Linked DNA regions of Homo sapiens. The protein of the gene in region 3 purifies or fractionates together with the protein of the main gene of each other region. This does not show direct contact. Each region holds a gene or a part of one and is shown on either strand. Other genes may lie near its edges. The genes, in order: TLE2, GNB1, CCT6A, TUBB4A, PDCL3, KDM4B and THOC3.

Evidence for each region.
Region 1: the proteins of CCT6A (region 3) and TLE2 purify together in Homo sapiens (affinity purification with mass spectrometry; 3 studies listed by BioGRID and IntAct, with this or other methods). This does not show direct contact.
Region 2: the proteins of CCT6A (region 3) and GNB1 purify together in Homo sapiens (affinity purification with mass spectrometry; 2 studies listed by BioGRID and IntAct, with this or other methods). This does not show direct contact.
Region 4: the proteins of CCT6A (region 3) and TUBB4A purify together in Homo sapiens (affinity purification with mass spectrometry; 2 studies listed by BioGRID and IntAct, with this or other methods). This does not show direct contact.
Region 5: the proteins of CCT6A (region 3) and PDCL3 purify together in Homo sapiens (affinity purification with mass spectrometry; 3 studies listed by BioGRID and IntAct, with this or other methods). This does not show direct contact.
Region 6: the proteins of CCT6A (region 3) and KDM4B purify together in Homo sapiens (affinity purification with mass spectrometry; 3 studies listed by BioGRID and IntAct, with this or other methods). This does not show direct contact.
Region 7: the proteins of CCT6A (region 3) and THOC3 purify together in Homo sapiens (affinity purification with mass spectrometry; 3 studies listed by BioGRID and IntAct, with this or other methods). This does not show direct contact.

Annotation. Positions count from the first base shown.
Region 1 is NC_000019.10:3,001,781-3,005,280, forward strand, and holds part of TLE2 (transducin-like enhancer protein 2), read right to left. Parts: intron 724-3,500; coding exon 573-723; intron 1-572.
Region 2 is NC_000001.11:1,807,588-1,811,087, forward strand, and holds part of GNB1 (guanine nucleotide-binding protein G(I)/G(S)/G(T) subunit beta-1), read right to left. Parts: intron 1-3,500. UniProt on the Homo sapiens protein: Guanine nucleotide-binding proteins (G proteins) are involved as a modulator or transducer in various transmembrane signaling systems.
Region 3 is NC_000007.14:56,058,265-56,061,764, reverse strand, and holds part of CCT6A (T-complex protein 1 subunit zeta), read right to left. Parts: intron 3,404-3,500; coding exon 3,244-3,403; intron 3,146-3,243; coding exon 3,063-3,145; intron 2,222-3,062; coding exon 2,125-2,221; intron 1,497-2,124; coding exon 1,349-1,496; intron 1,296-1,348; exon of another isoform or gene 1,163-1,295; intron 959-1,162; coding exon 825-958; intron 19-824; coding exon 1-18. UniProt on the Homo sapiens protein: Component of the chaperonin-containing T-complex (TRiC), a molecular chaperone complex that assists the folding of actin, tubulin and other proteins upon ATP hydrolysis.
Region 4 is NC_000019.10:6,496,565-6,499,309, forward strand, and holds part of TUBB4A (tubulin beta-4A chain), read right to left. Parts: intron 1-2,745. UniProt on the Homo sapiens protein: Tubulin is the major constituent of microtubules, a cylinder consisting of laterally associated linear protofilaments composed of alpha- and beta-tubulin heterodimers.
Region 5 is NC_000002.12:100,572,993-100,577,239, reverse strand, and holds the end of PDCL3 (phosducin-like protein 3), read right to left. Parts: intron 887-4,247; coding exon 744-886; 3' UTR 501-743; downstream 1-500. UniProt on the Homo sapiens protein: Acts as a chaperone for the angiogenic VEGF receptor KDR/VEGFR2, increasing its abundance by inhibiting its ubiquitination and degradation.
Region 6 is NC_000019.10:4,972,113-4,975,612, forward strand, and holds part of KDM4B (lysine-specific demethylase 4B), read left to right. Parts: intron 1-3,500. UniProt on the Homo sapiens protein: Histone demethylase that specifically demethylates 'Lys-9' of histone H3, thereby playing a role in histone code. Does not demethylate histone H3 'Lys-4', H3 'Lys-27', H3 'Lys-36' nor H4 'Lys-20'.
Region 7 is NC_000005.10:175,965,516-175,969,706, forward strand, and holds the start of THOC3 (THO complex subunit 3), read right to left. Parts: upstream 2,801-4,191; 5' UTR 2,694-2,800; coding exon 2,427-2,693; intron 1,753-2,426; coding exon 1,596-1,752; intron 1-1,595. UniProt on the Homo sapiens protein: Component of the THO subcomplex of the TREX complex which is thought to couple mRNA transcription, processing and nuclear export, and which specifically associates with spliced mRNA and not with unspliced pre-mRNA.

The DNA.
Region 1 (3,500 bases), on a different chromosome or scaffold from region 3:
TCTTTTCTTTCTTTTTTTTTTTTTTTTTTTTTTTAAGATAGAATCTCACTCTTGTCTCCCAGGCTGGAATGCAGTGGCATGATCTTGGCTCACTGCGACCTCCACCTCCCGGGTTCAGGCAATTCTCCTGCCTCAACCTCCCAAGTAGCTGGGATTACAGGCGCCCACCACCACGCCTGGCTAATTTTTGTACTTTTAATAGAGTCAGGGTTTCACCATGTTGGCCAGGCTTGTCTCGAACTCCTGACCTCAGGTGATCTGCCTGCCTTGGCCTCCCAAAGTGTTGGGATGACAGGCGTGAGCTACCACACCCAGCCTTAAATTTGAATCTCAGATAAGTCATCAGTAATTTTTAGGACAGGTATATCCCAAATACTTCATTATTTGGTTTTTAGTATAAGTATATCCCACACACCATTTGGGATATACTTGTACTAACGATTTGCTTTTGAGTATATAAAACTTAGTATATAAATAACATTATTTGTTATTTATCTAAGATTCAGATTGAATAGGCACCCTGGGTTTTGTTGGGGTTTTGAGGGCGTGCCACCCCGCCCCAGAAGACACACCGCAGGAGGCAAACTTCAGGGACAGCACGCAGCTCTCGTGGAGGTGCAGCTGGTATTTCTCCGGCTTGCGGACGTGCAGGATCTCCACGTTGCTACTCTCCATTCCGACCGCCAGCCAGTCCTGGTTAGGGCAGTGGCCCAGGGAGAAAATCTGGGGGTAAAGAGGGAAGAGATGGGGTCACGAGCCCCTCTTTGTTTTGTGTTGAGACAGGGTCTCACTCCGTCACCCAGGCTGGAGTGCAGTGGCACAATCATGGCTCACTGCAGCCTTGACCTCCAGGGCTCAAGAGATCCTCCTGCCTCAGCACCAGAAGCTGAGACTACAGGCATGCACCATCACGCTGGATAATCTTTTTTTTTTTTTGAGACAGAGTCTCACTGTGTCACCCAGGCTGGAGTGCAATGTTGCAGTCTCAGCTCACTGCAGCCTCTGCCTCCCAGGTTCAAGGGATTCTCCTGCCTCAGCCTCCAAAGTAGCTGGGATTACAGGTACCTGCTAGTACGCCCGGGTAATTTTTGTATTTTTAGTAAAGACGGCGTTTCACCGTATTGGCCAGGCTGGTCTCAAACTGCCAACCTCAAGTGATCTGCCCGCCTCGGCCTCCCAAAGTGCTGGGACTACAGGTGTGAGCCACCATGTCAGCCTACGAGCCCCTTTGGATATTGGGGGGTGCCCAGCACCATCAGGGGTTGCGGGGGTGGAGTCCAACATTCTCCCTCTTCAGCACCCCCCTAGAGAAAGGCAGCTGGCCCAGGACTGGGAACACAGCAGACAACTGCATGTCGAATCATTAATATTAATCAGAATTACACAGAACCCTAGGGCTGCACATCCATTATCTGCTCTGAGCGCACAACAGCACAGGGAGGAGGGAGAGAGGAGGGAGGAGGGACAGAGAAGGGAACAGCCAGGCAAGGACAATCACTCCCCTTAAGCAGATGATGGAAGCTGAGGCAGTGTCCCCTCAAGGTCACAGAGCAAGACTATGAAAGACCAGGCCTTGGCCGGGCTCTGTGGCTCAGGCCTGTAATCCCAACACTGTGGGAGGCCGAGGCGGGCGGATCATCTGAGGTCAGAAGTTCATGACCAGCCTGGCCAACATGGCGAAAACCCATCTCTACTAAAAATGCAAAAATTAGCTGGGCGTGGCTGCAGGCACCTGTAATCCCAGCTACTCGGGAGGCTGAGGCAGGAGAATCGCTTGAACTTGGGAGGTGGAGGTTGCAGTGACCTGAGATTGCACCACTGCACTCCAGCCTGGGTGACAGAGCAAGACTCTGTCTCAGAAACAAAAAACAAAAAAAATAAGACAGACCAGGCCTAGGAGACAGAACTTCTCACTCTTAGCTTGGAATGTTCCTTTTTGAGACAGACAGGGTCTTGCTCTGTCGCCCAGGCTGGAGTGCAGTGGTGCAATCATGACCCACTGCAGCCTCAACCTCCTCCCATGCTCAAGTGATCCTCCCGCCTCAGCCTCACAAGTAGCTTGGATTACAAGCATGTGCCACCACACCTGGCTAATTTTGTATTTTTGGTAGAGATGGAGTTTCTCCATGTTGGTCAGGCTGGTCTCGAACTCCTGACCTCAAGTGATCCACCCACCTCGGCCTCCCAAAGTGCTGAGATTACAGGCGTGAGCCACTGCACCCGGCCTCGGTTTGATTTTTAAAAGATTCAGGGTCCTCCACCTCATTTTAAGCACAAACAGGAATCAGGCTCTGTTCCACCCCAAACCTCTTGGAGTCTCACTAACAAGATGCCTGTGGAAATAACCACACATTTGCAGAAGAGAAGACTGGAGGGCTTCAAATGTCCTCTCCTGGCCATACAGAAGTGTTTCTGTGTAAAGACGCATTGGGGGACACCCAGTGAGCTAGGAGATATTCACCATGGGATCCCTAGAAATGTTCTTAGCCCACCTAAGCTTCGGGGCCACGGGATGGAGAGCTGTGTCCACCTGCACTCCTGAAAGAGAAGAGCAGGTTGGACATAAAGAGCTTGGGAGGGCAAGCGCGGTGGCTCAGGCCTGTAATTCCCACACTGGGAAGCCGAGGCAGGTGGATCACTTGAGGCCAGGAATCCAAGACCAACCTGGACAACACAGTGAAACCCTGTCTCTACCGACAAATACAAAAATTAGCCGAGCATGGTGGTGCGTTCCTGTAGTCCCAGCTACTCAGGTGGCTGAGGCACAAGAATCATTTGAACCTGGGAGGCGCAGGTTGCAGGGAGCTGAGATCACAACACAGCAACTCTGTCTCAAAAAAAAAAAAAAAAAAAGAGGAGCTTCGGAGTTAGGAGTTAGCTCCTCTTAGGTTTCAAGGAGGAGGGGCAAATGAGATGGGTCTTGAGGGATGAATAGGAGTTTGCCAATTACAGAAAGAAGAGAAAGGCATTTCAGCCACAGGGAACAAATGTGCAGAGGCCTCAGAGCTGTCCCGGAGTATGGTGTGCATGAGACCAGCCCATGGAAACCCTGAATGACAGAAGAAGGAGCTCACAGCTGCCCCCAAAGCAGTGAGAGGCAGGATCTGGGGTCACGGTGCCTGAAGATTCACTCTCTTTGCCCAGCCCTGAGGAGCCCCCAGCTCTGTCCAGCCTGTTCACCATGTCCTTCAGCTTAGACTCCACCTTCAATGGGGATCTCTCCATGCCCAGCTCCTCCTACATCAACCTCCACTCTGTCCTCCTGGCCAGTAGCTCCCCCATGGTTAGTCCTCAGTTGGGAAGTGTGTGTCCCGCGCTCTCGGCGGCGTCCAGAGATTAAAGGCTAGAAGAACCACCCAGCTACACGAGGAAAGGCACATATAAGGGTATGGCTGGACAAAAGCAGGTGGGGAAGATGATCTGGGGGTCTCAGTAGCCCCACAGCTTCCTATGAATCAGCTCTTTTGTGTTCCCCTACATCTTTAGAGAGTTACAGGGGA
Region 2 (3,500 bases), on a different chromosome or scaffold from region 3:
TTGGAATCAAGGTCTCCTAGAAACCAAAGGAGGCGTTCCCTCCTCACCTGCTTGGTAAACAACAGCACCACTGCGCATGGTCCGGGAGCAGAGACCAGTAACTATCACGAATTTTTTCTTTTTTTCTTTTTTTTTTTTGAGACGGAGTCTCGCTCCGTGGCCCAGGCTGCAGTGCAGTGGCGCCATCTCGGCTCACTGCAAGCTCCGCCTCCGGGGTTCATGCCATTCTCCTGCCCCAGTCTCCCGAGTAGCTGGGACTACAGGCGCCCACCATCACGCCCAGCTAATTCTTTTTGTATTTTTAGCAGAGACAGGGTCTCACCATGTTAGCCAGGATGGTCTCGATCTCCTGACCTCGTGATCTGCCCACCTCAGCCTCCCAAAGTGCTGGGATTACAGGCGGGAGCCACCACGCCCGGCCTCTTTTTTTTGTTTTTGAGATGGAGTTTTGCTTTTGTTGCCCAGGCTGGAGTGCAATGGTGCGTCGGCTCACCGCAACCTCCACTTCCCAGATTTGAGCAATTTTCCTGCCTCAGCCTCCAAAGTAGCTGGGATTACAGACACGCGCCACCACAGCCAGCTAATTTTGTATTTTTAGTAGAGACGGGGTTTCTCCACGTTAATCAGGCTGGTCTCGAACTCCCGACCCTCAGGTGATCCGCCCACCTCGGCCTCCCAACGTTTTGGTATTACAAGCGTTGAGCCACTGCGCCCGACCATGAATTTTTTCATAACTATTTCCTTGCTCTGGCAACTGTGCTCAGTTCGGAATCCACATGTTGAAAAGGAGCTCCATACTACAAAGGAGAATATGAATAAGGAGCAAAAGAATTTCACCTTAGCAGGCAAGTAAGGTGGGTGAAAGGTAACTCCTGGGAACCACAGTTGCTTATGAGAGGTCCTAAGGAACCCTGTAGCACAGAATGCTGTTTTCAAGGAAGAGCAAGAAGGTTCCACTGTTTGATGCAGGGATATCTGTCAGTACGGTAAATGATAGTATAAGGATTTTTAATTTTAAAGTTTCTATCAAACGCAAGGTTTTTTGTTTGTTTGTTTTTGTTTGTTTGTTTGTTTGAGACAGAGTCTCGCTCTGTCACCCAGGCTGGAGTGCAGTGGTGTGATCTCAGCTCACTGCAACCTCTATCTCCTGGGTTCAAGTGATTCTCATGCCTCAGCCTCCCAAGTAGCTGGGATTACAGGTACGTGCCACCACACCTGGCTAATTTTTGTATTTTTAGTAGAGATGGGGTTTCCCCATGTTACCCAGGCTGGTCTCCAACTCCTGGCCTCAAGTGATCCGCCCACCTTGGCCTCCCAAAGTGTTGGGATTACAGACATAAGCCACAGCGCCTCAAAACACAGGTTTTAACTATTTCAGCTGTGAACATATGTGGCTTCTTAAAGCTGACCTAAAGCTGGAGTAACGCTCTCTCAAGTTTTGTTGATAACTCTGACACTTTTAATATCAAACTAGATGTTTTGATACAGGTGTCAATGAGTTTAAGAACAAATAAAAACCTTTTCACCTGCACTTTATTACAAAATTTATCACAGAACTAAAAACTAAGTGCAGGCTCCCATCCTATTATTTTTCAGATGCAATTTTTTTTTTTTTTTTTTTTTTGAGAGAGAGTCTCACTCTGTCACCCAGGCTGGAGCTCGCTGCAACCTCTGCCTCCCAGATGCAAGCAATTCTCGTGCGTCAGCCTTCCCATTAGCTGGAATTACAGGTGTGCACCACCATGCCTGGCTACTTTTTTGTATTTTTAGTAGAGACAGGGTTTTGCCATGCTGGTCTCGAACTCCTGAGCTCAATCTGCCTGCCTCGGCTGGGATTACAGGCGTAAGCCACCGCACCCAGCCTTCAGTTGCAATTCTTAAAGCAAACTTCTCAATCCAGGTTGTCATCAACATATTAAACATTTAAAATTATTTCTACGTAATGGTATCATGTTCCCACTCTAGCTTTATTTCTGCCCAGCCCTTCTGAGACTTTCTGTCGAGTATCAGAGCTGATCTAAAGCAGCTCATCCTCCTAGATTAGGAGGATCACCTTTACAGAGGTCTCCCGGTCAGAGAGCTTAATAACTGCTGACTTCCAGAGGGATTAGGGACACGTAAGCTGTCCACTGATCCTCCAGAAGGTGAGAGAAGACATGCCTCCTAGTCCCGGGTCAGGGAGCTGTTGGAAAGCTGGGTTCACGTTGCCTAGTAGTGCCTTTACCTACTCAAAAATCAATTATCTGAGGTGCCACTCACCTAGAACATAGAGGCAAGGGCCAGGAAGCAAGCTAACAGGCTCCAGGACCCTGAAAGTAGCTGTCAAAAATCAAAACACCTAATGCCCTTCATTTTACTCAAAGGAGGGAGGGTGGTGGCTCATGCCTGTAACCCCAGCACTTTGGGAGGCTGAGATAAGAGGATTGGTTAAGTCCAGGAGTTTGAAACCAACATGGGCAACAAAGGGAGACCCTGTCTCCACAAAAAAATATATATATATATTTTTTGAGATGGAGTCTCGCTCTGTCACCCAGGCTGGAGGATCTCGGCTAACTGCAAGCTCTGCCTCCTGGGTTCATGCCATTCTCCTGCCTCAGCCTCCCAAATAGCTGGGACTACAGGCACCTGCCACCGCGCCTGGCTTATTTTTTGTATTTTTAGTTGAGACAGGGTTTCATTGAGTTAGCCAGGATGGTCTCGATCTCCTGACCTCGTGATCCGCCCACCTCAGCCTCCCAAAGTGCTGGGATTACAGGCCTGAGCCACCGCGCCCGGCCCACAAAAAATATTTTTTAAAAATTAGCTGGGCACAGTGATGTGCACCTGTGGTACCAGCTACTCAGGAGGCTGAGGCAGGAGGATTGCTTGAGCACAGCAGTTCAAGGCTTCAGTAAGCTAGGATCGCACCACTGCATTCTAGCCTGGACGACAGAGTGAGACCCAGTCTCAAAAAAAAAAAAAAAAAAAAAAAGTTGCCTTTTAGTACAAATATATTGATAAACATATTACAAATGTACATCTGATACATTAATACATACATACATAACAAGTAATCATTGTGGGCCTTGCATGTAGTTTTCTTTTTTGTTTGTTTTTTTGAGACAGAGTCTCACTCTGTCACCCAGGTTGGAGTGCAGTGGTGCAATCTTGGCTCACTGCAACCTCTGCCTCCTGGGTTCAAGCGATTATCCTGCCTCAGCCTCCTGAGTAGCTGGGATTACAGGCACCCACCATGAAGCCTAGTTAACTTTTGTATTTTTGGCAGAGACAGGGTTTCACCATATTGGGCAGGCTGGTCTCAAACTCCTGACCTCAGGTGATCCACCCGCCTTAGCCTCCCAAAGTGCTGGGATTATAGGCGTGAACCACGGTGCCTGGCCTCTCATGTAGCTTTATTTGTGTTTTGTTTTGTTTTTTGAGGCAGAGTCTCCATCCGTCACCCAGGCGGGAGTGCAATGCGCATGTTTGTGGGTATATATATACATATATATATATTTTTT
Region 3 (3,500 bases):
AGAGTTCTGAGCAAGAACCTAAAGTAAACAAATTTAATTCTTGAGAAAACAGGAACTAATAACTGATAGTAAAAAAAAAAAAAAAAAAAAAAAAAAGAAAAAAGAAAAAGAAAATCTCGGCCTGGTGCAGTGGCTCACGCCTGTAATCCCAGGACTTTGGGAGGCCGTGGAAGGTGGATCACCTGAGGTCAGGAGTTCGAGACCAGCCTGGCCAACATGGTGAAACCCCATCTCTACTAAAAATAAAAAAAAACCTGGCCGGGTGTGGTGGCAGGTGCCTGTAATCCCAGCTACTCGAGAGGCTGAGGCTGCAGTGAGCTGAGATCGCACCATTACACTCCAGCCTGGGAAACAAGAACAAAACTGTCTCAAAAAAAAAAAAAAAAAAAAACTCATTGCATAAAGACAGAACATTTATGTTCCCTTCAGAGAATACCAGACACAAGTTACTGATCAACTCTCTCAACTACCCCAAACCCAGCAGCAATACACCAGTCATAAATTATATATCAAAACTGGTATATAATAGAAAACAATGATATCAGTTTAAAACAAAAGCAAAAAGCAAGTTTGTACTCAAGTATAACCCCTAATACTGCAAATATTAAACTACAGGTTATCTCTTGCCATCTGCAATGTCAGCTATTCAGGCTTCCCAGAGAAACCAAATATATCTGGATGATGAGGAATACCTGTTCTAGAGTCAGAAAGAAAACTGATCAAACTTGCTTATCCAAAATCCACTTTATGAATAAATCCTACATTATCAGAAAGGTTTGATCAGCTGAATCTTTTGGAAGATTGACTGTTAAAAGCATGCACACCTTGGGAATAATGAGCAATGCATCAGCAAATGCTTGGACTCCAAGCTGTGCCCTGCCCTTTACACTGGGCTTATGTTTAATCAGGGCTTCTGCCATTGCCACTTCCACGGCACCAGCACCTGGAACCACACAGCCTGTTGGATGGGGGAAAAGGAAAAATGCTAAGAAAACTGCAGAACTAATTATGAATAACAAAATATACATATGAAAGCCATTAATTTCTTACAAATTTACTATGACAAAATACAAGTGACTAACATACCAAATAGGAGAATGGTTCAACCAGAATGGCTTCACTAGCCACTGGCAGCTTTCAACAGATCAGTATTAGTTCATTTATTTGTATTCACCTTTAATAATGATATGCTATGAAAAACCTTAGCATACCATCAGTCATTCTAAAGGGAAGACTGCTTTTGCATGGTGTCTGGCTGTGTAAACTACTGATAAAAACACAGTATTCGGCCATGCCTTTCAGACCAGCAAAACAATATAAAAGAATTGAAATACAGTGAGGATCTTACCATCATCAATAGCATTTTTGACAGCCCTCAAGCCGTCCCTCACTGCATCTTTGATCTGAGTGAGTGTGTGCTTATTTGGTCCTTTGATCAATAATGTGACAGAACGAGGGTTGTTACATTTCTCAATAAAGGTAAACTTCTCTTCTCCCTATGTGTAGAAAAAATATGATTTTCAAAAACAGGATTTGTGCAGAGTGAAGAGAGAAGAGGGACTTACAGAGAATGACAAGTAGCATATTAATAAGGAACAAACTTGATCACATTAAAGCAAATTATCTCCTTTTGAAAAATCACATAAAAGAAATGTGATTTTCCCCATCAATGGCTTCCCATTACTACACATAAACCTTCAAAATGTATATAAACAAAAATCTGATCCTGAATTTCAATTAATTTTTCTGCTAAAGACTTCATGAACCAGGCACGGTGGCTCATGCCTGTAATCTCAGCACTTTGGGAGGCTGAGGGTGAAGGACAGCCTGAGCCCGGGAGTTTAAGACCAGCCTGGGCAACACAATTATGAACCTGTTTCTACAAAAATTACCAAGAAAAAAAAAAATTAGCCAGTCATGGTAGCACACACGTCTGTGGTCCCACCTGCTCAGAAGCCTGAGGCGGGAGGATCACTTGAACCCAGGAAGATGAGGCTGTAGTGAACTGTGATCACACCACTGCACTCCAGCCCGGGCAGGAGTGAGACCCCACCTCAAACAAACAAACAAAAATAATTCACGAGCTAAAAGGTTCTATTACCTTTAAGAAAAAAATACACTTACCAATGTATACTCATATACAAGTCCTGCATGTCCCAAGCAGTCAGGACTTAGGTCGTCAAAAGAATTCAGGGCTACCCCACCACAAGCAAGAGTCAGCCTGAAATAGCATTTTAAGGGAGATGGATAAGCAACGTTACCAGTGAATTTCAAAGATAAGACCAGTAATTTTTAGGAAGGAATTTTTCAGAATTACACACAAAATTAAATTTTAAAATGTACTTTAAGCCTTTCCATTTGCCATCAACCAGCTAAAAACTAGTCTTTTCTCTTAACCCTCCATTTAAACCACTCTCCCCAAGTTAGCAAATGAAATCTAAAAGGTGGACAAGAGCTCTTTATTAGCCAGGCATGGTGGCTCACACCTGTAATCCCAACACTTTGGGAGGTTGAGGTGGGTGGATCACTTGAGGCCAGGAGTTTGAGACCAGCCTAGCTAACATGGCAAAACCCCATCTCTACTAAAAAAACACAAAGCAATTCAGTGGGCATGGTGGCAGACACCCGTAATCCCAACTACTCGGGAGGCTGAGAATCCTATGAACCCAGGAAGTGGTAGTCGCAATGAACCAAGATCATGCCACTGCACGAAAGAGCAAGACTGTCTCAAAAAATAATAATAAAAAATTTTTAAAAAAAGCTTTTTATTGTGGGGAGCTCTTTGGAAAAAAGTATATTGAATTCAGAAACAAAAAGTAAAATAATGTTTACAAGGGGCAAGGGGGAGGGAGAAATGGGGAGTAACTATTTAATGGGTATACAGTTTCAGTTTGTGATGATGAAAAAAGTCCTAGAGATGGACAGTGCTGACGGGGTGCACAATGTGAATATAGTTAATGCCAATTAACTATACAGTTGAAAAACCCAAAAATAAAGTATAAGGAAAAAGAAATAATCCCAATTCACTTGCAAAATGAGTAAAAGTCAAATTACTCGGATACCTCTCCATATTTCTCCTTTTAGCTCTGCGCAGAGCAACTATGCCTTCTTTTGAAAGAGCATCTAAGGAAAAGGGGTCAATTCCCTGTAACAAAAATAAAAATTAATTTCAACATCTTTCACCTTAAAAGTAAAAAGGATGATACGTACTATTTAGTTTATACATTGAGTTTTCATTCTCACCTTTTGATTAATAACAACAAATCCTTTATCTGAATCGCCACAGACTTTCCTTTTCAGTTCTATTATTTTTTTAACCCTATCTTCAATGAATTTTCTTTCAGCTTTCACGAGTTTTTCTCTCTCTTCTGCACTCTTGTAAAAAAAGCCAGAATTCACTTCTCTATTAAGAAAAAAAAAAGTTACAGAAAGCAGGGAAACATTAAGAAAGCAGCTTCTGAAACTGGATTAGTCCTAAGATTTAACAGTTCACTGAGCTC
Region 4 (2,745 bases), on a different chromosome or scaffold from region 3:
AACTTGCAGTGAGCCGACATTGTGCCACTGCACTGCAGCCTGGGCAACAGAGCGAGACTCCGTCTCAAAATAATAATAATAATAATAATAATAAATAATAACAATTATAGCCAGGTGTGCTGGTGAGCGATCGTAGTCCCTGGCTACTCGGGAGGCTGAGGCAAGAGAATTGCTTGAACCTGGGAGGAGGAGGCTGCAGGTAGCCAAGATTGAGCCACTGCATTCCAGCCTGGGTGACGGAGTGAGACTCCATCTCAAAAACACACATACACACAAAACACTCCCCCGCCCCCTGCCTAAAAAAAAACCAAGACTGGGCACAGTGGCTCATGCCTGTAATCCTAACACTTTGGGAGGCAGAGGTGGGAGGATTGCTTGAGCCCAGCAGTTCAAGACTAGCCTGGGCAACCTAGTGAGGCCATGTCTCTACAAAAAAAAAAAAAAAAAAAAAAAAAAAAAAATATATATATATATATATATATATATATATATATATATATAAATTAGCCAGTCATGGTGGTGGCACACCTGTAGTACCAGTTACTAGGGGGGCTCAGGTGGGAGATTGCTTGAGCCCAGGAGTTGGAGGCTGCAGTGAGCTATGATCACACCATTGCAGCCTGGGAGACAGAGCAAGACCCTGTCTCTAAAACAAATAAATAATAACAATAAAAAGATTAATATTTAACATCATTATTAATAATAATATCATTTTCAGGCAGGGTCTTGGTATGTTGCCCAGGCTGGAGTACAGAGGTGCAATCATGGCTCACTGCAGCCTTGACTTCCCAGGTTCAAGTGATCCTCCTGCCCCAGCCTTTTGAGTAGCTGGGACTACAGGCTTATGCTACCAGATCTGGCTAATTTTTGTATCTTTTTTTTGTAGAGGTGGGGTTTCGACATGTTGCCCAGGCTGTTCTTGAACTCCTGAGCTGGAGCAATCCACCTGCCATGGCCTCCTAAAGTGCTGGGATTACAGGCGTGAGCCACCATGCTTGGCCTGTGTTTTCTTGTTAATCATGTTTATTGTCTGCAAGCTCACTGTGGAATGCAAGCTCCCGGAGGAAAAGAATCAGTATTAGAATATTGGCCAGGCGCAGTGGCTCATGCCTGTAATCCAGCACTTAGGGAGGCCGAGGCGGGCAGATTGCGAGGTTAGGAGATCGAGACCATCCTGGCTAACACAGTGAAACCCTGTCTCTACTGAAAATACAAAAAATTAGCCGGGCGAGGTGGCGGGCGCCTGTAGTCCCAGCTACTCGGGAGGCTGAGCCTGCAGTGAGCCGAGATCGTGCCACTGCACTCCAGCCTGGGCGACAGCAAGACTCCGTCTCAAAAAAAAAAAAAAAAAAAAAGAAGAATATTGGCCAGGCGTGGTGGCTCACGCTTGTAAACCCAGCACTTTGGGAGGCCGAGGCGGGCGGATAGCGAGGTCAGGAGATCAAGACTATCCCGGCTAACACGGTGAAACCCCGTCTCTACTAAAAATAGAAAAAATTAGCTGGATGTGGTGGTGGGTGCCTGTAGTCTCAGCTACTCGGGAGGCTGAGGCAGGAGAATGGCGTGAACCCAGGAGGTGGAGCTTGCAGTGAGCCGAGATCGCGCCACTGCACTCCAGCCTGGGCGACAGAGTGAGACTTTGTCTCAAAAAAAAAAAAAATGGAATAAAAAAAAGAATATTGGCCGGTATTACTGTGAACAGCTAACGTTTTCTTTCACCCCTCATCTGTCTCCACCTTAGTTCAGCTCCAGCATCACCCTCCTGGATAAGTTCAATTCCCTCTGTCCTGGTCCCCTGGCTCCTACCCTTATCACCCAGTCTGTCCTCTCCACAGTACCCACGAGAGGACACCTGAGAGCAAGTAAGTCAGGTCCCGTCCCTCCTCTGCCTACAGCCCTCCATGGCTCCCACCTACCTTGGGGTCAAAGCCCAAATCCTCCCTGCAGGCCACAAGGCCCTGCCGGACCTGCCCCATCCCCTCCCTCACTCTGCTTCAGCCGCAGCTGTTACTCCAGCTTTCCAGGTGTGGTCCTGCCCTGGGGCCTTTGCACTAGTGGCTTGGCTGCTTAGAATGCTTTCCCCCCAGGTATTCACCTGACTTTTTCCTCACTTCCTTCAGGTCTCAGCTCAATGCCACATCCTCAGAGAAGCCACCTCTGGTCACCCCCTCCCTCCTCCTCCCGAGCCTGGTGGTTTAGACTGCAGATTCTCGGGACTGACAAGACAAACTGTGTGACCTTGGACAAGTGACTTCCCCTTTCTGATCTGTTGGAAGATTTCAAAACATAATGATGCAGTTTTGTGGCCGTGGCCCATCATAGGTCCTTGGGAAATGGCTGGGTGAAATCAAGATGAAATGAGATTGGCCAAATGGTGTGAGTGATTTCAGGAGGACCAGAGGGCTTACAGTTGGGCCAAGAGATTCTATGGCCTCTGGGTGGCCAGGGGGTGGGAGGAGCATTAAAAGTGTGGGCTCAGACCAGGCGCGGTTGCTCATGCCTGTAATCCCAGCACTTTGGGAAGCAGAGGCAGGCAGATCACCTGAGAGGTCAGGAATAGGAGACCAGCCTGGCCAACATGGCGAAACCCCGTCACTATTAAAAATACAAAAAATTAGCTAGGTGTGGTGATGCATGCCTGTAGTCCCAGCTACTCGTGAGGCAGGAGAATCGCTTGAATCTGGGAGGTGGAGGTTGCGTCACTGCACTCCAGCCTGGGCAACGGAGACTCCGTCTCAAAAAAAA
Region 5 (4,247 bases), on a different chromosome or scaffold from region 3:
CGTGATGGTGCACGTCTGTAATCCCAGCTCCTCAGGAGGCTGAGGCAGGAGAATTGCTTGAACCCGGGAGGTGGAGGTTGCAGTGAGCTGAGATTGTGCCACTGCACTCCAGCCTCAGCAACACAGAAAAGCTCCATCTCAAAAAAAAAAAAAAATTAGTTAACAGTCTGAGATAAACTATTTTAACAAGAAAACACATTTAACCAAATATGGCAGTAAACTGGAAACTTTCAGTTATTGCTTCAATAAGGGAATGTTTCACAAAAATTGTCTGTTTCTTCAATACTAACATTCTTTTGTCCTAGAGACCATTCCTGTAGTTTAATAATCTCACTGCTCTCTTTATAAAATAAAAATAAACAATGTATCTATAAGGCTTAGTCTGCAATTTTCCACTGTATAATTTATTCACATTTAAAACTGTATTTCTTTTTATAGTTATATGTCAAAAAATAGTGACTAGGTTTTATGGCTTACTTAAAATATAAATGAGGAAAACAGACATTTGCCATACAAATGGCTGGTTTTAATTTTTTTTAGAGGAAATACTATAATTTAAAAAAAAAAAGAGTTCCAAAATATTTAACAGAATCTCCAGCAATGATTATTTCCAAAATGTAAAGATTTGAAACATAATTTATACAAAACTAAAAACCACAAGGATTCATTCTTGCTTTTTCCTTTTTTAAAAAATCCAGACAATTTGTCACAAGAAAGTTCGGCATGTGATAGAAGCTGTAGCCTCAGTCACCCTCGGAATCGCTGTCCCTCTTCATGAGGACAGAGCGCCGCACTGAGGACAGCAACACGTCTTCAATCGGCTTCTTAGGGTTTTCCTCCAGGTCTGTCATAATTGCTCCAGATTCAGACAGTTTCCATTCCAACTCTATATGGTAAAGAAAAAGCAAATTGCCTAAGGCACTGTGCTGCAAAGGTTCCCTCGCCCTAAGTCCATCAACCTAGTTTTTTCTAAGTAGAAAATACAATTATCGAAATTTGGCCCAGCACAATGGCTCACGCCTGTAATCCCAACACTTTGGGAGGCTGAGGCAGGAGGATCACCTGAGCCTGGGAGGTAGAGGTTGCAGACATTTAAGATCACACCACTGCACTCCAGCCTGGGCAGCAGTGAGACTGTCTCAACAATAAAAATAAAAGTAAATAAAACATAAAAATTCACTGGGTACAGTGGTGGTGTGTGCTTATAATCCCAGCTGTTTGGGAGGCTGAAGTGGCAGGATCGCTTGAGCCCAGGAGTTCAAGGCTGCAGTGAACCATGATCATGTCACTGCACTCCAGCCTACACGACAGAGCGAGACCCTGTCTCAAAAATACAAAGAATAAACCTATCCTCTGATGACTACAATTTCCCAGGAAGGAAATCAGCATGAAAAATTTGAAGGAAATAATTTCCACAGACCTTCTGGCAATCTAATCATTAAATCCAATTTTAATAAACTCTTCAGCCTCATGTCCAGTATCTCAATCTATTGGGGTCAAAGAATAAATGTATGGTGATACCCTAGAACTTACACATTTGTTCCAACTAATCAAAAAAGCACCAGATAATAAAGAATCAGTAACTGAAGACTCAGCTCCAATACTTCACTCTTAAAATCAGCAAAATTCTTGTGGTCTGAGACCAAGTGAAGCAAAATCAAGTGATGTATTTGCCTACTTCAGAGAAGAGCCCAGGCAGAACCAAAGGACTACGTAAGAGATTCTACAACAAATGGCTTCGCTTAAAGGAACATCAAGGCAGAGAGTTCTGCTAACTGGACACATCGATTAAAATCTGAAAACCAGGCCGGGCGCGGTGGCACATGCCTGTAATCCCAGCACTTTGGGAGGCCAAGGTGGGCGGATCACGAAGTCTGGAGATCGAGACCATCCTGGCTAACACGGTGAAACCCCGTCTCTACTAAAAATACAAAAAATTAGCCAGGCATGGTGGCAGGTGCCTGTAGTCCCAGCTACTCGGGAGGCTGAGGCTGGAGAATGGTGTGAACGTGGGAGGCGGAGCTTGCAGTGAGCCGAGATCGCGCCATTGCACTCCAGCCTGGGCGACACAGCGAGACTGTCTCAAAATAAAAAAAATCTGAAAACCAATTTTACTGAAGTCTTATCTTAATCTACTTTTTTGGAGACAGGCTCTCACTCCATCACCCAGGCTAGAGTGCTATGGGTGCAATCATAGCTCACTGTAACCTTGAACTCCTGGGTTCAAATGATCCTCCCGCCCATCTCCCTAGCAGCTGAGACTACAGGTGTGCACCACCACACCTGGCTACTTTCTTTTTTGTAGACATGGGATCTCGCTATGTTGCCCAGGCTGGTCTCAAACTCCTGGCCTCATGCAATCCTCCAGCCTTAGCTTCCCAACATGCTAGGATTACAGGCTTCAGCCAACGTGCTCAGTTGAATTTTACTTATTAACTTAAAGTGTTCCATGAAACAGAGAATAGAATGGTGGTTATCAGGGGAGGAGTGGAAATGGGAGATGTTGGCCAAGGATACAAACTTTCAGTTATAAGATGGTAAGTTCTGAAGACCTAATGTAGAACATGGTAACTACAGTGAATAATAACGTATTGTATACTTGAAATTTGCTAGGAAAGTAGATCTTAAGGATTCTCACCACAGTGAGGGCAGCTATGTGAAATGATGGATGGTTAATTACTTGGATTGTGGTAATCATTTCACATTGTACCTCTATTAAATCTCCATGTTGTATATCTTAAATATATTCAATTGTTTTGGTCATCATACCTCAGTCATGCTGGGTAAAAAAAAAAAAAGTGTTCCACGAAGATGAGTAACACCAGTATTTTCGGCTCTAGGTACTTTGGTTGAATGTTATATAAATTCAACCTGTTTCTTAAAAAAAAAAAAAAACAAGACTTCAGATTCCTGACTCAAGAATTTATATCCAGCCAGATGTGGTGGCTCAGGCCTGTGATCCCAGAACTTTGGGAGGCTGAGGCAGGTGGATCACTTATCACTTGAGGTCAGGAGTTCACAACCAGCCTAGGCAACACGGTGAAACCGTCTCTACTAAAAATACAAAACTTAGCCAGGCATGGTGGCACATGCCTGTAGTCCCAGCTACTCAGGAGGCTGAGGCACGAGAATTGCTTGAACCCGGGAGGCTGAGGCTGGAGTGAGCCAAGATAGTGCTACTGCACTCCAGCCTGGGTGACAGAGCAAGACCCTGTCTCAAAAATTAAAAAAATATATATATCTCTCTCTATATATATATCTTTATATATCCACACATACGTACATAAGTGTTTAATGTTACTGTTCACTTACACAAAGCAATCGTTATATGTAAGTTCACTAGACTTCAAGACTTTTTTTTAGAAATAAAAACAATTGCACACTTCTCTCTCCCCTCATGGTACATTCAAAAAAGGTCAAAATAAGATGCAAACATGTATTTAGTTTGAAATGCTGTACGCCTTTGAACACTGGAATATGTAACTGATGTATCTCCTATATGTGTGTGTTTATGTATGTTTGTATATTTATACTTTCCCCAGCTGAATATCTTTTTTTTTTTTTTTTTGAGATAGAGTTTCGCTCGTTACCCAGGCTGGAGTGCAATGGCATGATCTTGGCTCACTGCAACCTCTGCCTCCCAGGTCAAGTGATTCTCCTGCCTCAGCCTCCGAGTAGCTGGAATTATAAGTGCCCGCCACCACGCCCAGCTAATTTTTTGTATTTTCAGTAGAGACAGGGTTTCACTATGTTGGCCAGGCTGGTTTCCAACTCCTGACCTCAGGCAATCCACCCGCCTTGGCCTCCCAAAGTGCTGGGATTACAGGCATGAGCCACCGCACCCGGCCGCCAGATGAGTATCTTAGTGGTACAGTATATAAAGTCATGTTTAAAAATGTCTTTCTGGTAAAGCATAGTTGGAAATATTATTTCAATAAAGAGATAAAGAGTTTCACTTGGCAAGAATGCCTCTGGGCTGAGGTTCTCCTTCACGTTCTGTGTGGGTATGTATTTTGATACCTCCATGTTTAACAGGTAGAAAGGAATTTAAAAACACAGCCGGGCGCGGTGGCTCACATCTGTAATCTCAGCACTTTGGGAGGCTGTGGCGGGCAGATCACGAGGTCAGGAGTTCAAGACCAGCCTGGCCAACATGGTGAAAACCTGTCCCTACTAAAAATACAAAAATTAGCCAAGCGTGGTGGTGGGCGCCTGTAATCCCAGCTACCTGAGACGCTGAGGCAGGA
Region 6 (3,500 bases), on a different chromosome or scaffold from region 3:
GTCTCTGTTCCTGGCTTAGGATGCCGGACAGAAGAGCAGGGGCCCAGCCTGGGCTCCGTTCTCATCTGGTGGTCTTGACGACGTCTCTGGATCTCTGCCCTCTGTCCCATGCCCCACACAGGCTTCAGAGTTGGAGAGACCTGGATTCAGATCCCTCCTCTGAGGCAGTCACTTCCCCTCTCTGGGCCTTGCTTTCTTCTCTGTAAAATGGGTGTAATGGGAACACCTCCCTCCCAGGTGGTTGTGAGGATCAAAGCGGGTAAAAGGCGCTGAAGCTTGCAGGGTGCCAGGAGCTCTGAGTTCGGAGCCGGTTTATTACACAGCAAGGCCCTCTGCCCTGTCAGGGTCTCCCCACCTCTGCCCTATCCACGTTCTGGGCTGGGACATTCTGTGGCGGGGCTGTCCTGGGCACCGTAGGGTGAGTGTGAACAATATCCCTGACCACCACCCACCAGATGCTAGTAGCACCCTGTCCCCTAAGCGGTAGCAACCAAAAATGTCCCCTGGGAAGCACTGTCAACCCCGCAGTGAGAACCTTGGACTTGGCCTTCAGCCCTGCAGTAGCTCATGGTGTGCTGTGACCGTGATGGGCCTCAGCTCCCTTTCTTTCCTCCCCACTCACCCTTTAGCAGTGAGTGACTCCTATTTGCAAACTGTGTCCCGGACACACTCCTCACCTGGTTGTTCAGGTTCTCCGTGACTGTCCTTCTGCCCTTCCAGGGTGGCAGCTTCCACCTGAGAGGACAGGAGCCCCCACGGGGTCCCCTGCACGCCCTGCAATGAGGGGCAGCCCGGCATCTGTGGGGTCTTCTGGGCTGCTCTCTGGCCTCTGAGCTCCGGGTCTTCCTGGGCTGCTCTTTGGCCTCTGAGCTTTGGCAGGTCCTTGCCCAGGCTTGCTTGGCTGCCCCCAGGGGTGGCACTTCCACACCCTCCCAGTCACCATAGCCCTGACCTGTCGATTTGCCAGACAGTTTTCTTTAAGTCCATTTAAAAATGACTCACCTCTTTGATCTTGGCCTCTTCCTGAACAGTAATGTCCCCAGAGTTGTGGAACGTTAATGTGCTAGTTGCACATACTTTTATTTATTTATTTTGAGACAGAATCTCACTCTGTCACCCAGGCTGGAGTACAGTGGCTAGATCTCAGCTCACTGCAACCTCCGCCTCCCGGGTTCAAGTGATTCTCTGGCCTCAGCCTCCCGAGTAGCTGGGATTACAGGTGCCCGCCACCACACCCTGCTAACTTTTGTATTTTTAGTAGACACGGGGTTTCACCATGTTGACCAGGCTGGTCTCAAACTCCTGACCTCAAGTGATCCGCCTGCCTCGGCCTCCCAAAGTGCTGGGATTACAGGCATGAGCCACTATGCTCGGCCAAGTTGCACATACTTTTACTAATTCGCGTTCAAATGAGCTTAACCACTATATTAAAAAAAAGAAAATTTGTATCTTCCCAAATACTGAGGGGGGAGTGGATTGACGAATTGATGTTTCTTGGTTTTTGGACAAATTAATTTTCAAGCTCACTCCCTGCGTGACTGGCCTGTTCTAGGATGCTGGACTTGGTTAGATCTGGGTCCGTCTATTCCCTCCTGCTCCCTTGAGGAGCTCGGAAAATGGCCTTCCCTGTTGGGGCGGGGAACATGGGAAGTCTCTACCTCCTGCTTAGTTTTGCTGTGAACCTAAAACTGCTCTCTGAAACAAAGCATATTAAAAAAAAAAAAAAAAAAAAACTGGCTGGGTGCGGTGGCTCATGCCTGTAATCCCAGCACTTTGGGAGGCTGAGGCGGGCGGATCACCTGAGGTCAGGAGTTCGAGAACAGCCTGGCCAACATGGTGAAACCTCGTCTCTTCTAAAAATAAAAAAATTAACTGGGCGTGGCGGTGCACACCTGTAGTCCCAGCTACTTGGGAGACTGAGACAGGAGAATTGCACCGAGATCCTGCCACTGCACTCCAGCCTGGGTGACAGGGCAAGACTCCGTCTCAAAAAAATAAATAAGTGGCCGGGCGCAGTGGCTCACGCCTGTAAAGCCAGCACTTTGGGAGCCAAGGCGGGCAGATCACAAGGTCAGGAGATCGAGACCATCCTGGCTAACACCGTGAAACCCCGTCTCTACTAAAAATGCAAAAAAAATTACCCGGGCATGGTGGTGGCCGGTGCCTGTAGTCCCAGCTACTCGGGAGGCTGAGGCAGGAGAATGGTGTGAACCCGAGAGGCGGAGCTTGCAGTGAGTTGAGATCGCGCCACTGTACTCCAGCCTGGGCGACAGAGCGAGACTCCATCTCAAAAATAAATAAATAAGTAAGTAAGTAAGTAAATAAATACATAAAATAAAAAACTGGCCAGGTGTGGTGGCTCACGCCTGTAATCCCAGCACTTTGAGAGGCCGAGGCGGGAGGATCACCTGAGGTCAGGAGTTTGAGACCAGCCTGGCCAACATAGTGAAATCCCATCTCTACAAAAATACAAAAATCAGCCGGGCATGGTGGTGGGCGCCTGTAGTCCCAGCTACTCGGGATGTGGGGGCACGAGAATCTCTGGAACCTGGGAGGCAGAGGCTGCAGTGAGCCAAGATCACACCACTGCACTCCAGTCTGGGAGACAGAGCGAGACTCTGTCTCCAAAAAAAAAAAAAAGAAGGTAGTCAAAGGAGTAAAAACCAAAACAAACAAACAAACAAAAGATTTTCCCCTGCTCAGAACCTTCCGGTGACTTCCTGTTGCCCTTGGGAAAAATTCTGGGCCCTTTCGCGTGGCCCCTTCGCTCTGTCATCTGTGGCCTTGTCCTTCCTTCCTTTCCTCCCTTTCTTCCTCCTGCACCTGCTCCTTTCCTGGCACAGCCGCCTTCCCTGCCCGCCCTTCCCTGCCGCAGGACCTGTGCACTTGCTGTGCCCGCTGCCTGGTTCTCTTTCCACCCAGCCGGCTCCTTATCACTCTAGTCACTTCCCTTCCCTACTTCTCCTCCTTTGCATGTCACACGATCAGAGCTGGGTATTAGTCTGTTTGTGTATCTGTTTGTCTCATCTACTAGGGCAGGGGCTTTTTCTGGAAGGGCCGGAGAATAAATATTTTTGGCTTTGTAAGCCAGAGGTCATCTCTGTCCAGACCACTCTGCTTTGCCGTTGTAGCAAGAAAGCTCCCGTGGGCGAGTGTGCCTGTGTTTCAGTAAAACTTTATTTATGGACACAAACGTGAATTCCGTGCAATTTTTACATTATAAGACATTTTTCTTCTTTTGCTTTTTTTTTCCTCCAACGACTAAAAAATGTCAAAACCATTCTTAGACTGCAGGCTGTACAAAAACAGGTGGCGGGCAGGATTGAACCTGTGGGTTGTAGTTTGCAAATACCTGGCTAGGGTGTGAGGGCCACACTACGGAAAGCTATGGAAACCATGTCAGCCTCACGACCCCTAGAATGTACGGCAGCTCCTTAGACGTGGTGGGTGTTGAGTGGACATTCCTTGTTGAGTGAATGAATTTTTTTTTTTTTTTTTGA
Region 7 (4,191 bases), on a different chromosome or scaffold from region 3:
CTGGGTTCACGCCATTCTCTCGCCTCAGCCTCCCGAGTAGCTGGGACTACAGGCGCCTGCCACCACACCAGGCTAATTTTTTTGTATTTTTAGTAGAGACGGGGTTTCACCGTGTTAGCCAGGATGGTCTCGATCTCCTGACCTCGTGATCCGCCCGCCTCGGCCTCCCAAAGTGCTGGGATTACAGGCGTGAGCCACCGTGCCCGGCCAAGCCAAGATTTTAAACCCAGATTTGACCCCAAAGCCCCCTTTTCTCTTACACCAGCATTTCTCAACTCCAGCCATTCGCATGCCAACATCACAATTTTTGTCCTATCCATTAAACACTATACTTTTCTTTATTCAAGATTTTTCTTAAAATTGATTCAAAAAAGTTTACTTAAATAAATTTAGCAGCCAGCTGTGGAGGCTCAAGCCTGTAATTCCAGCACTTTGGGAGGCCAAGGTAGGCAGATCACTTGAGTCCAGGAGTTCAAGATCAGCCTGGGCAATATGGCAAAACCCGTCTCTACAAAAAATTAGCCAGGCATGGTGGCATGTGCCTGTAGTCCCAGCTACTCAGGAGGTTGAGGTGAGAGGATGGCTTGAGCCCAGGTGGAGGCTGCAGGGAGCCAATATTGTGCCACTGTACTCCATCCTGGGTAACAGGGCAAGACCCTGTCTCAAAAATAAAAATAAAATAAAATAAATAAAAATAAAATAAATTTAGCTTCAACTGAATAATAAATTCTATGTGCTAGTTCTTCTAGTAGACATTAAGATATTTGCAAAACTGGTTTTTAATGTTCACCCACGCATCACCTGAATCACTCATGGATCAGCAGCTGTATACTTGGGGAAAAACCACACCATTCCGCCTCCAGAGATAAGTCTTGTCAACAAAGTCCAGTGGCCCACACTGAACACATCAATTAAAAATCTCACCAACTTTTTCCATTCTAAAACGCATATTTTCTCACATTTTAGTATCTACACTGTATCTTAAAATGTATCAGAAAGCATTTCAAAATTTTGGGTGTATCACAGTTATTTACCAACTTTCTTTCCTAATGGAACATCTTACGATCAATGAAAACTCAGAGTCCCATACAATATCGGCCTCAATACTTACAACAGAGCCTATAAATGTACTGCACAACTTTCTCCCAGATCACCAAGACCATCCAAGTTTCAACCATTCTAACTCATCAGAATTTTCCAAATTCTCCATGCCTTTGCACATGCCGTTCCCTCCTGGAAATGTCCCATTCCCCACCCACAGCACCCTGACCACTCAACTCCTATGGCTACCCTAAAAGTTTGCTCAAATTTGGTGAGGCCTTCCCTGGCTCCCCTAGGCAGACTTTTGTTTTCATTTCTATTCTGGGTATCCACCTTGCAGACCTCTCCATTATAAAATGAACCATATCTTGCTATGTTATTTGTATATATATGTCTTCTCCCCGCAGGGGAGGTCCTTGGAGCTGGAAACTCTTATTCAGCTCAGGATGTCTCATACACAGCTGAGTGCCAAGCACAGAAAAGATATTCGGAAAATGGTTGTTGAATGAATCCAAACAGCTTATCTTCCTATTGCCCTCTCTCTGAATAGTCACCTTTAGTGTTCACAGTGGCAATGCATTTTGTAGTCCTCACATCCCAGATGCGAATGGTTTTATCTCCGGACGCCGTAACAAATAGGTCAGGATTACTTGGATGCCAACAAAGCTGGTCCACACTATCCCCATGTCCCCGATAATTGTTTTCTTTGACCTGAAAGAACAGAATCCAGATGTGACTTCACATAGATGTAACTGCCTCCGCATGTAACTTTATAAGCTTATTCAAACCAAAGTATGCTGGGACCAGTAAAGATCTGGGTAATTCAGAATCCAGTTCCTCCAAGCCCTTTCTCCCTTCTCTTCTCCGCAGGCCTTCTGAACTGTTTTTCTCAGCTTCCACACCTATGCCCTTACTTTTGTGCCCTCCCTGGCCTTCTCCTCCTTCCTGGTTTTCCACCCTTACTCTACCACCAACGTACCACCAACGTACCACCACCAACGTACCACCACCACCACCACCACCACCACCACAGCCCCTAGCCACTTCTTATCAGCACAGGATTCGACTCCAAACCAGTAAGGCTCCCATCGCAGCCCTGTCCCATCCACCCTCTCCTCACCTTCACCCGCCATCGCCAACCTCCTTACTTCCACACTCTTCACACGCCCCCAGTCTTCCTCTCCTCACCCCTCACGACCCCGTCACCCCCACACTCCACCTTCTCCCTACTCCCTCCTCATCTCCACACTCCCCCTTTCCCCTTCCCTCAAACCCACTCTCCTTTCACCCCCGCGGCTCCGTTCGCCCCCATTCGCTCTCCCACTACCGCACCTCACTTCACCACGGCCCCTCTCCCTAGCCTGAGCCGAGCCCCGGCAGCTCACCAACCGGTCCTTCTCCAGCAAGAAGACGCTGGCCGTCTTGTCGAAGGACCCCGAGGCTAGGCGACGCCCGTCGCAACTCCAGGCCACCGAGTGCACCTTGGCGCTGTGCGCCAGGAACTCGCGCGTCTTGCTGTGGCCCCGGAACAGCTCCTGCATCCCAAGCACGTAGCGCGACGGGCCGCTGCTCACTGAGCACCACGGGGCCATCGAGCCGGGGCCGCTCTGGCCCAACGCCGAGGGCCCCATGGCTGCAGCGGGGACCGCCATGCCGAGCTCCCCAGCTTCCAACTCACAACACTGCAGCAGCCTCCACGGCGCAGTCAGTCCTGGCGCCGCTGCCGCACGCATGCGCCCGGAAGAGCGACGGCCCCTCTGCGCAGGCGCGCTGTACCCCGCCCCGGAAGGGACTACAAATCCCGGTATGCAGCGCGTGCCCGCGTCTGCTTACTTAGTAATATTTGGTTCTTTTAACTCCAAATATGCTTCACACTTAACGATTCCGAGTTTTTTTAGTGTTCTTATTTCTCCCTTACCTATTCTTTGGTAGATATATGTGTATTCCTGTTTAATCGAATAAAAGAACCAACACTAACCTTCTAAACAGTTAACTCATCACCTTTCTTCTGGGGTTGTTCCGTAATCCCTAGTCCCCTCCCTTAAGAGCAGAAAGCTCTGGTCTTTTTGCTGGAGAAGGACCAGCTGGTGAGCTTGTCCCATGAAAAGGGCTAGCGGGTGTGGAGTGAGGGAAGAGGTGTTAAGAAGGGGTCTGGAGGTTTTGTTTTTTTTTTTTAAATAAAAATGGATTTTTTGTTTTTAAAAGGTAATGGCAGAGGCGTGTGAACCAGAGCAACTCTATCTTAAATAGGAACTGGGTAAAATGAGGCTTAAACCTACTGGGCTGCATTCCCAGACTGTTAAGGCATTCTAATCACAGGATGAAATAGGAGGTCAGCACAAAATACAGGTCATAAAGACCTTGATGATAAAACAGGTTGCAGTAAAGGAACCGGCCAAAACCCACCAAAACCAAAATGGCGATGAGAGTGACCTCTGGTCATCCTCACCTCTACACTCCCACCAGTGCCAGGACAGTTTGTAAATGCCATGGCAATGTCAGGAAGTTACCCTATACGGTCTAAAAAAGGGAGGCATGAATAATCCACCACTTGTTTAGCATATCATCAGGAAAAACCATAAAAATGCGCAACCAGCGGCCCTCGGGGCTGCTCTGTCTATGGAGTGGCCATTCTTTTATTCCCTTTACTTTCTTAATAAACTTGCTTTCACTTTGCACTGCGGACTTGCCCTGAATTCTTTCCTGAGTGAGATCCAAGAACCCACTCCTGGGGTCTGGATTGGGACCCTTTTCCTGTAACAGTATTACATGCACATGATTGTAAATATAAAAATAAAAGATATAGAGTGAAAAGTAAATGTCCACCTGCGTATCCACCCCACCTCTCATATCTCCCTTAAACCAGTGGCTTCTTGCTGGAGAAAAAAGGGGTGGTGAGCTGCCAGCGCCAGTCAAGGCCCTGGAGAAGAGCTGAGGGGGGAAGGTTTTGGTGGTGAGTAGTAGTGGTAAATGTGTTTAAAAACCCAATTTTTAAAAGGCAACACGTGCACTTGGTAACAAATGTAAAATGTATAAAAGGGAATAGATTGAAAAGCTTCCCTCCATCCTGTGTCCCCAAACTTCTCTTCTGAAAAAGTTAAATTTCTTGTGTGGCCTTCCAGAGACAGTGTAAGTAAGCACCTGGGCAAG